Regions from separate parts of the Homo sapiens genome. Here region 2 is linked to region 1. The links come from fine-mapping of genetic effects on gene expression. A gene starts in region 1. The other region holds a variant in brackets. All regions are shown on one strand. Distances are from middle to middle.

What was found. PIP is the estimated chance that this variant, and not a neighbour inherited with it, causes the effect. A credible set is the group of variants that fine-mapping cannot tell apart.
Region 2: its variant is the best candidate, but not a certain one, in a credible set for the expression of NID2 in whole blood (TOPMed, PIP 0.67).

Annotation. Positions count from the first base shown.
Region 1 is chr14:52,066,873-52,072,244 of GRCh38, forward strand. NID2 (nidogen 2) reads right to left here and starts at 2,187. Exons shown (of 22, transcript NM_007361.4): 1 at 1,895-2,187; 2 at 986-1,291. The coding sequence starts at 2,122. LOC105378180 (a long non-coding RNA gene) reads left to right here and starts at 2,364. Exons shown (of 2, transcript XR_943864.4): 1 at 2,364-4,635; 2 at 5,357-5,372.
Region 2 is chr14:52,040,701-52,046,072 of GRCh38, forward strand. It overlaps NID2 (nidogen 2), which reads right to left. Exons shown (of 22, transcript NM_007361.4): 6 at 2,082-2,231; 7 at 1,405-1,650; 8 at 1-151. Among named protein-coding and RNA genes, the nearest start is that of NID2, 26 kb to the right of the region's middle. The variant A/G (reference allele first, on the strand shown) is at 2,370.

The DNA of each region.
Region 1 (5,372 bases):
ACTCATATCCATTTGGAGGACTTCAAATGTTGATGACAAGACTAAAGACCAGGAGCCTGGAATTTTTTACTTTCCGCAGGTAGAGACTGTAAAGCACATTGACGGCAGACTCCTATAAACTAAGAAACTTGTAAACTGGTACCTGGAAGGCAATTAGGCAGAAGTTATCAAGAACTTTATCAAAAGTGCATCCTCTCTGACCTACCAATTGCACTTCCTGGAATGTCAACTAAGAACATGTGCAAAGATTTAGCTTTTTAAAAAGTGATTCACGCTATTATTTATAATAATGAAAAACCAGAAAAAGCCTTAATGGCCCAACACTGGTTGAGCATACTGTGGTACACCCACTATTATACAGGATAATAGCAGGATACAGTAGTATGCATCATTATAAATGATGTAGAAATACATTTATTGACATTGAAACATATTTACAATACACTATTCTGTGAAAAAAGCAAGTTATAAAACAGTATGTGCAGTGTAAACTCATCATTGTTAATAGACAGCAATAAAGATATGCAGAAGAAAAAACTCTGAAAATGTACGCAGAAAAATGTTTATCAGTGGTGGGAAAATGAGTGGTTGTTTTCTTTTTTAAAATTATCTGTATTTTCTGATTTTTTCCCCTTCAATGAACATATAATTAGAAATACTTGTATACTTAGAGATGGTTCTAAAAATAAGCAACCAAACAGTAAATTGCCTTATGTTCAAAGGGGCTCCCACATCTGCACTCCCGCTCTCATATCCGCTAAGCATTTTTTTCCTCAAGGGAGTGACCACCTGCCAGGGCCTCAGAAGATGCCTAGAGACAACGTCTTTCCTCACTCCCAAGCCACTCCAGCCCTGCTGCCTCCAAGGTCAGGTTCAGCGCAAGAGTAGGCTCAGAAACAACTCCGAGCCAGTCCCTGGGTCGCTGCCCCAGAATTTAAGCCCATCCTTCAATTTCCTCAGCAGTCAAATATCCCTGGTCACTTACCTCTCCCGAGGGCAGCGCCCCGCGCTTGACCTCCTCGTAAGCGCCTACCTGCTCCCAGGTGGCCAGGAAGGCGTGGGTGGGGGTAAAGCGCGCAGAGCGCGGGAAGCCAGCGCGCACATAGCGGGCGGCCAGGCCCAGCACTGCGGGGGAGGTGTCCTCTCGGTACAGGACTCGGCCTCTGCCGTGGCTCGTGTCGATGTCCGCCAGAAAAGGGGCGATGGCCGGGAAGTCGGTGGGGAAATCATAGTCCACATACTGCGTTTCCCTGGGGAAGTCCTGAGTGGAGATGATGCCGTTGGTGCCCACCTGGGAGAGGAGAGGGACAAAAAGGTGACAGTCGCTCAAGCCCAAGGACGCTACCCTTTCGCGCAGGGAGGGAAGGGAACTGACTTAGGCAAAAAGCCTCTCTCTCCTTCCCCACTGGCCAGGGAGTCTGGATTCAGGGAAACAAGCGCAACTTTTGCGACTGTCCCAGCTCCGCGCTGCAGTAGGTCCAGGGGCCCTAAAACTCGTTCACCTATCTTCTCACTCCCCTCACAACCCCGGAGCCCCATGTCCTCGGAGAGGAAGCCTCCAGGTCTGAAGAGGGAACACCCCAGCTCCGCAGACGGGCACAGCCTTCTCGCGGTCCTAACTGCAAAGCCCGCTGGCCGCCCTAGCAACGCCACCTTTTCTGCCTGGGACGCGTACGTGGCTGCGAACAATTCTTGCTCTCCCCTCCAGGTCATTCTTGCTCCCCTACAGCAGCGGGGCAGGCAGCGGCATCGCTCTCTGGCCGGGTACCACCGCAAGGGTGCTGGGGGGCTCCAGGAGTGGGGTCTGTTTCCTCCCCTCTGGAGGCAGGGTTTCCGTGAGACCGACCCCAGGGAAGAAGCTGCGGGAAAAGTGCCAGGAGGGGGCTGAACTTACGTAGAGGTTGCTGAATCGGGCTTCGTAGAAGTGCAGGGGATTCGCCAGCTTCACCACGGCTGAGCTTTCGTCGTCGCCTTCCTGCAGGAGCTGGTCCCCCCACGACTCCCCGTGTGGGAAGAGCTCGTCTGGGTGCAGCGCCGCGGCCCGCAACATTAGCAACGGCAGCAGCAGTAGCACTGGTAACGACGACAGCACCGGCCGCCCGGCCACCCGGTCCCCCTCCATGCTCGCTCGGCCGTGCGCTTACCCGCTGCACAACGCGTCCCGCCCCGGCCTCCAGCCCACTCTCCGCGCCGCGCCAGCCTCGAACCTGGATCTCCGCGGGCGCCTGGGCGGGGCGGGACTCCAGGCCCACCCAGCAAGCTAATTGGCTGAGGCCCTCGGCTGGGGACCAATCACCGGCTCTGAGAAAGTTCGGCAGTGGCCACCACATCTGGTTCTCGTTAACTTTTCTAAGGCAGCGGCCGCTGGAGCAGCGGGGCTGGCGGGGTAAAAGCTCCTGGCCAGGGCTGCCTGGAGCTGCCCCTTCCACTCCGCCCCCAGGGAGCTCCCGGGTCATCCTCTCATCCGGGCTGCCCCGCGGCCCCCAAGGAGCCCCACCCCCGGGACCAAATGGCCCGCAAGGTTTGGGGCAGCGGCGTTGCAGGAGATGAGCTCAGCGCAAAGGGAACCCCGCAGCGGCGAGTGCGGCTGCTGGCCTGCGCGCTGTGGCCCCAACAGGCTGGCAGGGCGCGGGCGGGTGGCGGGGTTGCGGTATGAGCTTTGCTCCCTGCCCTGGGGTCCCGGGCGCTCCTGGCTCTGGAGGCCTGGCCATCGGTCCGAAAAGCAAAGGGACATTGTCGTGGTCCCCTCGGCCGCTTCGCTCCACCCAGAGACGCCCTGAGGAGAAGCGAGCCTTTGTACGAAGGCAGAGGGCTGACTCCTAAGTTCTGTCCCCCTCCCGAAGGCCGGCCGCTAGGGAAGACTTGGCCACCCTCTGGAAGTACCTTCCCCCGGGAAAACCGCAGCAGGAAAGACCATGAAATACTACTGTGTGTGATCCGCTCCGTTTGGGGAGTAGGATGAGGCATCCCGCTTGGTTACCAGGCAGAAAGGGGCGAGTCGCGGGGATGGGAAGACCCTGATCTCTTGCCCATTGCTGCGGCCGTCGGAGATGCCCTCCCCCGCGGCCACGGAGGCGGTAACCTGAGCTGCTCCGCAGGACTGGAAACCGCACAACCTCGAAACCAGCTGCGCAGGAGAAGGGGAACCCCATCCACCATAAACATCCCCTCTGCGAAGCCTCAGGAGCTGGAGGAGATTTTATTACCATTTTTATTATCAAGAGCTTAAAATTTCCCAGACAGTCTGTTTTCTCTCCCAGGCCCCCCATGAGGTCCTTAAAAGCAAAGATATTTAAAAAGAACGAAAGAAAGAAAAAAACCAAAAAGCAAATCCTTGGAAATGCCTTAAAGGACTCTCCAGAGACACACTGCTCTTTGTAGGTGTTTATTCCTATGGGCCCACTGGACCAAACGCTAAAAAACGTGAAGACATCAGACTGTGAGACTCATAGAGCAGACACAAAATGGAAAACTGGCCCAAAGCAGTTTGCTTCCTCAGAGTGGAGAGTTGTATATTTGATGTTCCAAAAATATATTTATGCTTGCACATATATTTTCTCATTCTTTCTGGGGTCAGGTATTTTTATTTTACTGAGGATGAAATGAAAGTTCAAAGACAGATGACTTGACTTGCCCAACATCATCTGAAGTTACTCCCTGATATAAAACTACTGGCCCTCTGTAGTTTTACTTTATCTCTCGATTCAGCATAATAATAATAACTAACATTTATTTAGTGGTACTAAGCTATGAGCTTTGGGGCAAGCAAACACTGAGATGGTCTCCAATGATCCCCATTTCCTGGTGTTCATTCCCCTGTATAATCTCTGCCCTGGGAGTGTGGACTGGCCTTGTGATTTCTAACAAACATAGTGTGGCAAGAGTGATGAGAAGAAGGCTAAATAAGATTGTGGCTTCTTCCTTGTTAGTTGACTTTCCCTCTCATTGATTTTGATGAAGCAAGCTGTTATGTCGGGGAGGCCCACATAGCAAGGAACTGAGGAGGGCAGCCTCTGGCCAACAGTCAGCAAGGAACTGAATTCTGCCAACAACCATGTCAGTGAGCTTGGAAACGGATCCTTCCCCAGTTGGGTCTTGAGATGGTATCTCAGCGCTGGCTGACATTTGATTGCAGCCTTGCAAGAGACCCTGAAGCAGAGGACCCAGCTAAGCCAGGTGCAGATTCCAGACCCACCAAAACTGAGAATTATAGTTTTGGTTAGATTATAATTATAGTTTTGGTGGGATTCCAGACCAACCAAAACTGAGAATTACAGCTTCAGCTTCAGAAGCTGAAGAAGCTGTGTGTTGCTTTAAGCTATTACATTTTGGGATAATTTGTTATGCAGCAATAGACAACTGATAACAGGTAGTCGTTGTGTTAAGGAAACTAAAGCTCAGATGGGATTTTAAAAAAATCAGTTATTATCACATGGCTGGTAAGTACCAAAGCTGAGATTTGAACCCAATTCTGTCTGATCTCTAAACCTCCACTCCTAACCACTAAATTATATTGCAGCAAGGCCCTTTGGAAAGTAGCTCTAGTTTATGTCTCTAACTTTATCTCCCGTCACAGCCACCCTGAAGTCTCACCTGAAGCTGAGACTTTAATTCTCCAATACAACATCCTCACAGGTAAGTCCTTTTACCTACAGTAAAAGGTCAATTTCTTGGTCAATTTCAAGCCAACACCTTCTCATCTTTAAGGCTTGAATCAAAACCCTCCTCCTTCAGGAATCTGGGAAGAGAAAAGAATTCCCCACATCTTTTGCAAAAATCTCATTAATAATCCACCCCATTTAGCTTATAATCAATAAATAACCATAAGTATAATCAGTCAAGCAGCCGACGCCACTGCTCTGCCTATTCTTTTGTTTCTTTACTTATCTAATAAAGTCACTTTCACTTTACTTTGTAGACTCACTCCAAATTCTTTCTTGCACCAGATCCAGGAGCCCTCTCTTAGGGTCTGGATCAGGAACTCTTTCCAGTAACACTACTGCCCCCTTTTGAGCTATGTATTCATCCTTGAAACTGCTTGCTATTGCCACAAGTAACTATACATTAACCTAATAATGTCACACTGGACACTATCACTCATAGCCTATAGCTTAACAGTGCATAGCCAATCAGTGAGCAATGTTGTTTCTGTAAACCAATGTGAATTCCTTACAAACAATTTCATATCGGCCTACTCCCTGTCCCCCTTTTCTGCCTGTAAAAAACCTGCTTGTAATAAAGGCGGCATGAAGCTCATATCCAGGGTTACTTGGGTCTAAGTCTTCCGGGCAACTGTCCTCACTTTGGCTCAAGTAAATGTTTTGTTATATTTTGTGCCTCTGTCTTTTCCTTTCAGGTGGACGAAGCTTTCC
Region 2 (5,372 bases), 26 kb before region 1:
AAATTTGCTGAGACGTAAGGCACCTGGCCTTGAATGTTGGTCTTAATGCTCAGGTAGTTCTCTGGGTCAAGTCCCTCAGCAGTTTGAGTGATACGAACCGTCTCCTCTCCCGGGTAGAATGTAACTTCCATGTCATGGGTAAAGGCAGCACCTGGAGATGAAAAACATTCAGCACAGGGATGAAAAGAGGTCTTGCTTAAACAGTTACCAGTATATACTGCCCGCTCCCAATTTCTACTGCTGTTGGAGATCGTGCCTAAGGAGATTATCTGATATCTGAGAGTAAGCACTATCAGCTGTTGATTCCATAAGTTCCCAAACTTTTCCATTGAAGAATATGGTTTCATCCTGCCTTACCTCACCCAGCTTCTCTTTGAACAAGCTTGTATTCTGTGAGAAATACTCTTGGGAACGTCCTTGACTTTTCTCTAAGGTTGCTAGACTTAGCAAAAAACAAACAAACAAATAAACCTAACAACAAAAAAACAAAAACAAATAAACTACCACCTAAGACATTCAGGGTTTTGTTTGAATTTCAGATAAGTATGTCTCATGAAATATGTGGGTAATACTTATACTAGAAAATTGTTTATCTGAAATACAAATTTATCCAGGTGTGCCATTTTTTATCTACTTTTGACCCAAGGGCTTTATTCAAATTTTGATTAAAGCAAGAACCTATTAACAGCTACCGAGCTCTGCAGTTAAAGATGGAGAAAGAACTTCTCACAAAACTATTTTTAATGCAATAAAGATAAAACCTCTAGCAAACAAGTTTTCAGGTTGGAAGGTGAGAATCCAAAAAGTATCTTCTAAATCCTTGTTGTCAACGGGTGGCCTTTCCAGCAACACTGGTACCTCACCTCCTAGCTTGGTAGAAAAGCAAAATCACGGACCCCACCCCAGGCCTGCTGAACCAGAATTTACATTTTGACAAGACCTCCAAGTGATGTGTGTGCAGGTTCAAGTCTGGGGTGCACCGGCCTATACTATTATAGGTTGTGGAGCTGGGAGGAGAAGAGCACCCCTTCCCCATGAAGTAAAATCATCCCCAGGTGCCCCAAGTACCATTTTTGCATTTGACAGATCTGTGCATAATTTAAAAAGCCTGACAAATATGCTGCAACAAATTGGGGTAAGAGGACACAAATGTTCTGAATGGAATCATCCTGTTTCTCAGAACAGCTGGGAGAACATTTAGACGAAATCACTGCCTTTCAAAAATCAGTGATGTGAGGTCAAACCATTCCCAACAACCTGTGGCCAGAAAACTACACACATGTGGCTCTAGTACATTAAACAAGTGATTCCTCTGTCACTGCGTAAAGGCCTAAAGACAGTGCCCCAAGGAGCACCACTGCCAAAGCAATGCTGACTACCGGCCTTCTCAGAGGCCCTACTCACCTGCGAGGCTGAAGCCGTTCTCAGAGCCAGGTTTTTCTAAAGCAAAGAGCCAGCCAAACAGGCCTCCAATTGGTGTGAGGGGGAGGAGGGCCTGGGCTGCTGGCTGTGGGATGTGGCTGATGGCCGTGTAGGCTCTGCCATCATTGCCCACGATATACGCATGCAGGTCCACATCAGTGAAGTGCACGGGTGTATGGCCCACGTGGAGGTGGCCACTCACTTTCCCATTCACTCGGTGAGGTGCCCCTAAAAGACAGCAAATCCAGTTAGGCTTGGACGTCATCCTGGCTAGAGATGGGTGTACCCAGGTATAATTATTCCACTGACAACTTCCAAAACTCACTCTTTAGCAAGTCACTTTAATGATTTCCTAACCAACCAATTATCCATCTATGAAACAGTCCTGCCTCCAGTCTGTTTTCTCCCCTCCTCCTTCTACTCCACTACACTTTGGCTCTAATGAGCTGGCAGAAGGAAGCATTTCTGGATAATCCTCAAATTGGGAATCAGCCCAAACCAGTTCATTCCTCACACATTTATTGAGCACCTGCAAGTTGATAGCACTCTGATTTAAGTAGTGGAGATGTTTGGTCCATAAAGCAGAGCTCACAGTGGTAGCTGGAAACAGGTAAGCAGCAGGAATAGACACACAGGAGTTCCTGGCCCCAGTCAATTACCTTCAGGCAGACAGTGCTTCCCATTTCCATAAAACTTGGATTGGCAGTGGCAGCAGAAGCCAGTGGCATAGTCCGTGCAGAAGGCATGCCGGGAGCATTGTCTGTGGTTGTGTTCACAGGTTTCCTTGTTGGCAGCATTATACGTGAAGACTGAAAAATAAAACAAACTTGCCTTAAAAGGACTAAATGATTCCAATGTCACTGCTGCATCGGGGACACAACATCTGCTCCATAGAAGCAGTTTAGATCATAACAAACAGTTTTTGATGTTTAAGAGACCGGCATAAC[A/G]TTCAACCCAAGGGAATTAATCTGCTTTGTCTGCTGGCAAGAAGAATTGCTTACTGCTCCCGGCTGGGTCCCATTGCAGAGTTGGTGAACTAAGATGAGACTGCACCCGTGGGTTTGAGTGCAGTAAAATGAAAGCAAACCAGTAAGTACATGTTAGGTTGAACTTCATGAAACCACTATTTTTGTGGGTCAAAAAGGGCTAAATATCAGCACTTTTATATGGTTCAACCTAAACACATCCTGAGAGGAAGACATAATAGAGAAGCTAACAAATGTCTTATGTCTAACCATCCTTCTTTTAGGGAACACTGAACTTAAAAAAGATAATAGCTGGTCTCGCTACCAAGATTGTTTTGAGGGAAGGGTCTTAAAGAACACACGCACCTACCTCAAAGAAAAGGCATGGGGAGAAGGGGACAGAGGAGGGCAAAACAACAGGGATTCAAGCTATTAAAATGCCCTATGCCCTTGGCAGGGTTTAACTATGATGGGTATGGTACAAGCATGATTTCCACGCAGTAGCAGACAGCTTGGGCCCCACTCGCAGATCTTCCAAGAAATTATGGAGGACTAGGATAAATTCAGTGCTCTGGCAGCTGTTTCTTCCATTTCCTACTTATTCTGCCCATTAAAAGAAGAGGGCCATCTGTGCTGCAAAGAAATGGGGAAACTGGAGCAAATGCCATAGTTCATAAAGGAAATAGCCAAGGGGGTAGGGTGTGGCGGGGGTTGTGGATGGACAGGAGGGTGCTTTCTCCGGGGCACTAGGAAATATGCCAATCCCAAGCATGGCCACCAGGAGGCCAAGCGGCTGCACACACCTCTGCCTCCACATCCCCAGGAGGTGGAGTTGGCTGGAGACTCCAGGAGCATGCTGTTGAGCAGGGATGGCATGGAATTCTAGTGTGAGACACGGATGCTGGCATGAAGGAGGACACCCACCCTACTCTTAGGAAAAACCAAGTGGTAGTTGTGTTCCAGGTCTATCTGGAAACGAGGAGACAGGAGGGGAGGAAGAAATCCAAAGATCAATCTTTACCCAGTATTCCCAGGGAGAACAGAAAGTAAAGGAGCTAATGAGACATAGCATTATAGGTACAATGTCACCAAGATAAAGACCTCCATCAGCAAATAAAAATATAACAAAGTTAACACTTCAATCGCGCTTAACATATACAAGCTTTACATTTAACAACCTTTTTTTTTTTTTTTTTTTTTGAAACGGAGTCTCGCTCTGTCGCCCAGGCTGGAGTGCAGTGGCACGATCACAGCTCACTGCAAGCTCCACCTCCCAGGTTCACGCCATTCTCTTGCCTCAGCCTCCTGAGTAGCTGGGACTACAGGCACCCACCACCACGCCTGACTAATTTTTTGTATTTTTTAGTAGAGACAGGGTTTCACCATGTTAGCCAGGATGGTCCTGATCTCCTGACCTCGTGATCCACCTGCCTCGGCCTCCCAAAGTGCTGGGATAACAGGCGTGAGCCACCCCGCCCGGCCAACAACTCTTAATTTGCACAACAACCCTAGGTAGCAGGGACTTTTTTTTGTTGCTGTTGTTGAGACAGGGTTTTGCTCTGTCACCCAAGCTGGAGAGCAGTGGTGCCATCTCGGCTCACTGAAAGCTCGACTTCCCAGGCTCAAGTGATCCTCCTATTTCAGCCTTTTGAGTAGCCGCAGCCACAAGCATGCATCACACCTGCCTACTTTATTTTTTGGTAGGGTGGGTTGGGGGGAGGGGTCTCCCTGCGTTGCCCAGGTTGGTCTCGGTCTCGAACTCCTGGGCTCAAGTGATCTTCCCACCTAGGCCTCCCAAAATGCTGGGATTACAGGTATGAGCCACCACTCTGGCCAGGGACAATTTTTTAACCCGTTTGCAGATAAAGCTGAGGCACAGTAGACTAAAGCACCTGAAGTCGCATAGGCAGTGAGTGGCAAAGGTGGGAACCGAACCTAGGACATCTAGCTGGAGAATCTTAACTGCTACTCTCCACGACCCCTTCAATGGGATCCAAGTACGGAGATCATGAGCACTAGATTAGGGGTCACCACATGTCTGGGGTTAATCAGCACAGACTTCAAGTATAATTCGAGTCATACTTTATAAACTGGGTTTAATGGTAGAAGCAAGCAGGGAAGATTATCGAGATGACTATTACAGCATGTTGAAAAACAGCACAGGTAAGAAATGAGAGTAGCAGCAGCGGCATTAGCTTTTGAACAGTACTGGAGTGCTGCCTGCAGATCCTTGGGAAAGCAGCAAGCTGAGGGTTGGCAGGACAGACAGTGTAGGTTCAAGTGGAAAATCTGATTAGAACATAGTAGGAATGAAGTTATGACTCAAGATTTAGTATAGGGCCTTGATGACTTGGCTAAGAAATTCCAGTTTGATAAAAATAGAAAATTAGGCATGACTCAACTTTATTTAAACAAGAAAGTGACAAGCTTAACTTAAACAGAAAAGTGATATAAAACTCAAGGCAGAAAAAAAAAAAAAAAAAACCCAGGATGGATCATGGTAAAATAGATGGCTGTGAAGAAAACTGTATCACTGTCTATTAGTTTAAGAAAGGGAAAAAAACATTTAGAGTAAAAGGAAATGAATGTAACTTGGATGTGTCAAAATCTCAGGTTTCTCCAGCTCAGAAATTCACAACTAAGTGTAAGGAAGCAGCTACAGGAGGGACTCACACACTCACCAGTGTGCTCATGGCTTAAGGGCCATCAGGACTTTCTCCCAGAGCTCAAGGAATGAGGGGCTGCAGAAAGCGCCAAGCTCTAGGACTCAACCTCAGCCCTCCCTCGGGGGCTTTGTGGAAACTATGCAAACTGTCTTTCAGCTTCCTCATCTCTAAAATAAGTAGAACACCTCTTCCTCACCCCTGCATTGCCAGAAGTCGCATTTCTTCTTAATGTACTTCTGAACACCAAGTAAAAAGGCAATCTGCTATAGGTCTAAAGAACAGCCATTTGGCTGGGCCCGGCAGCTCACACCTGTAATCC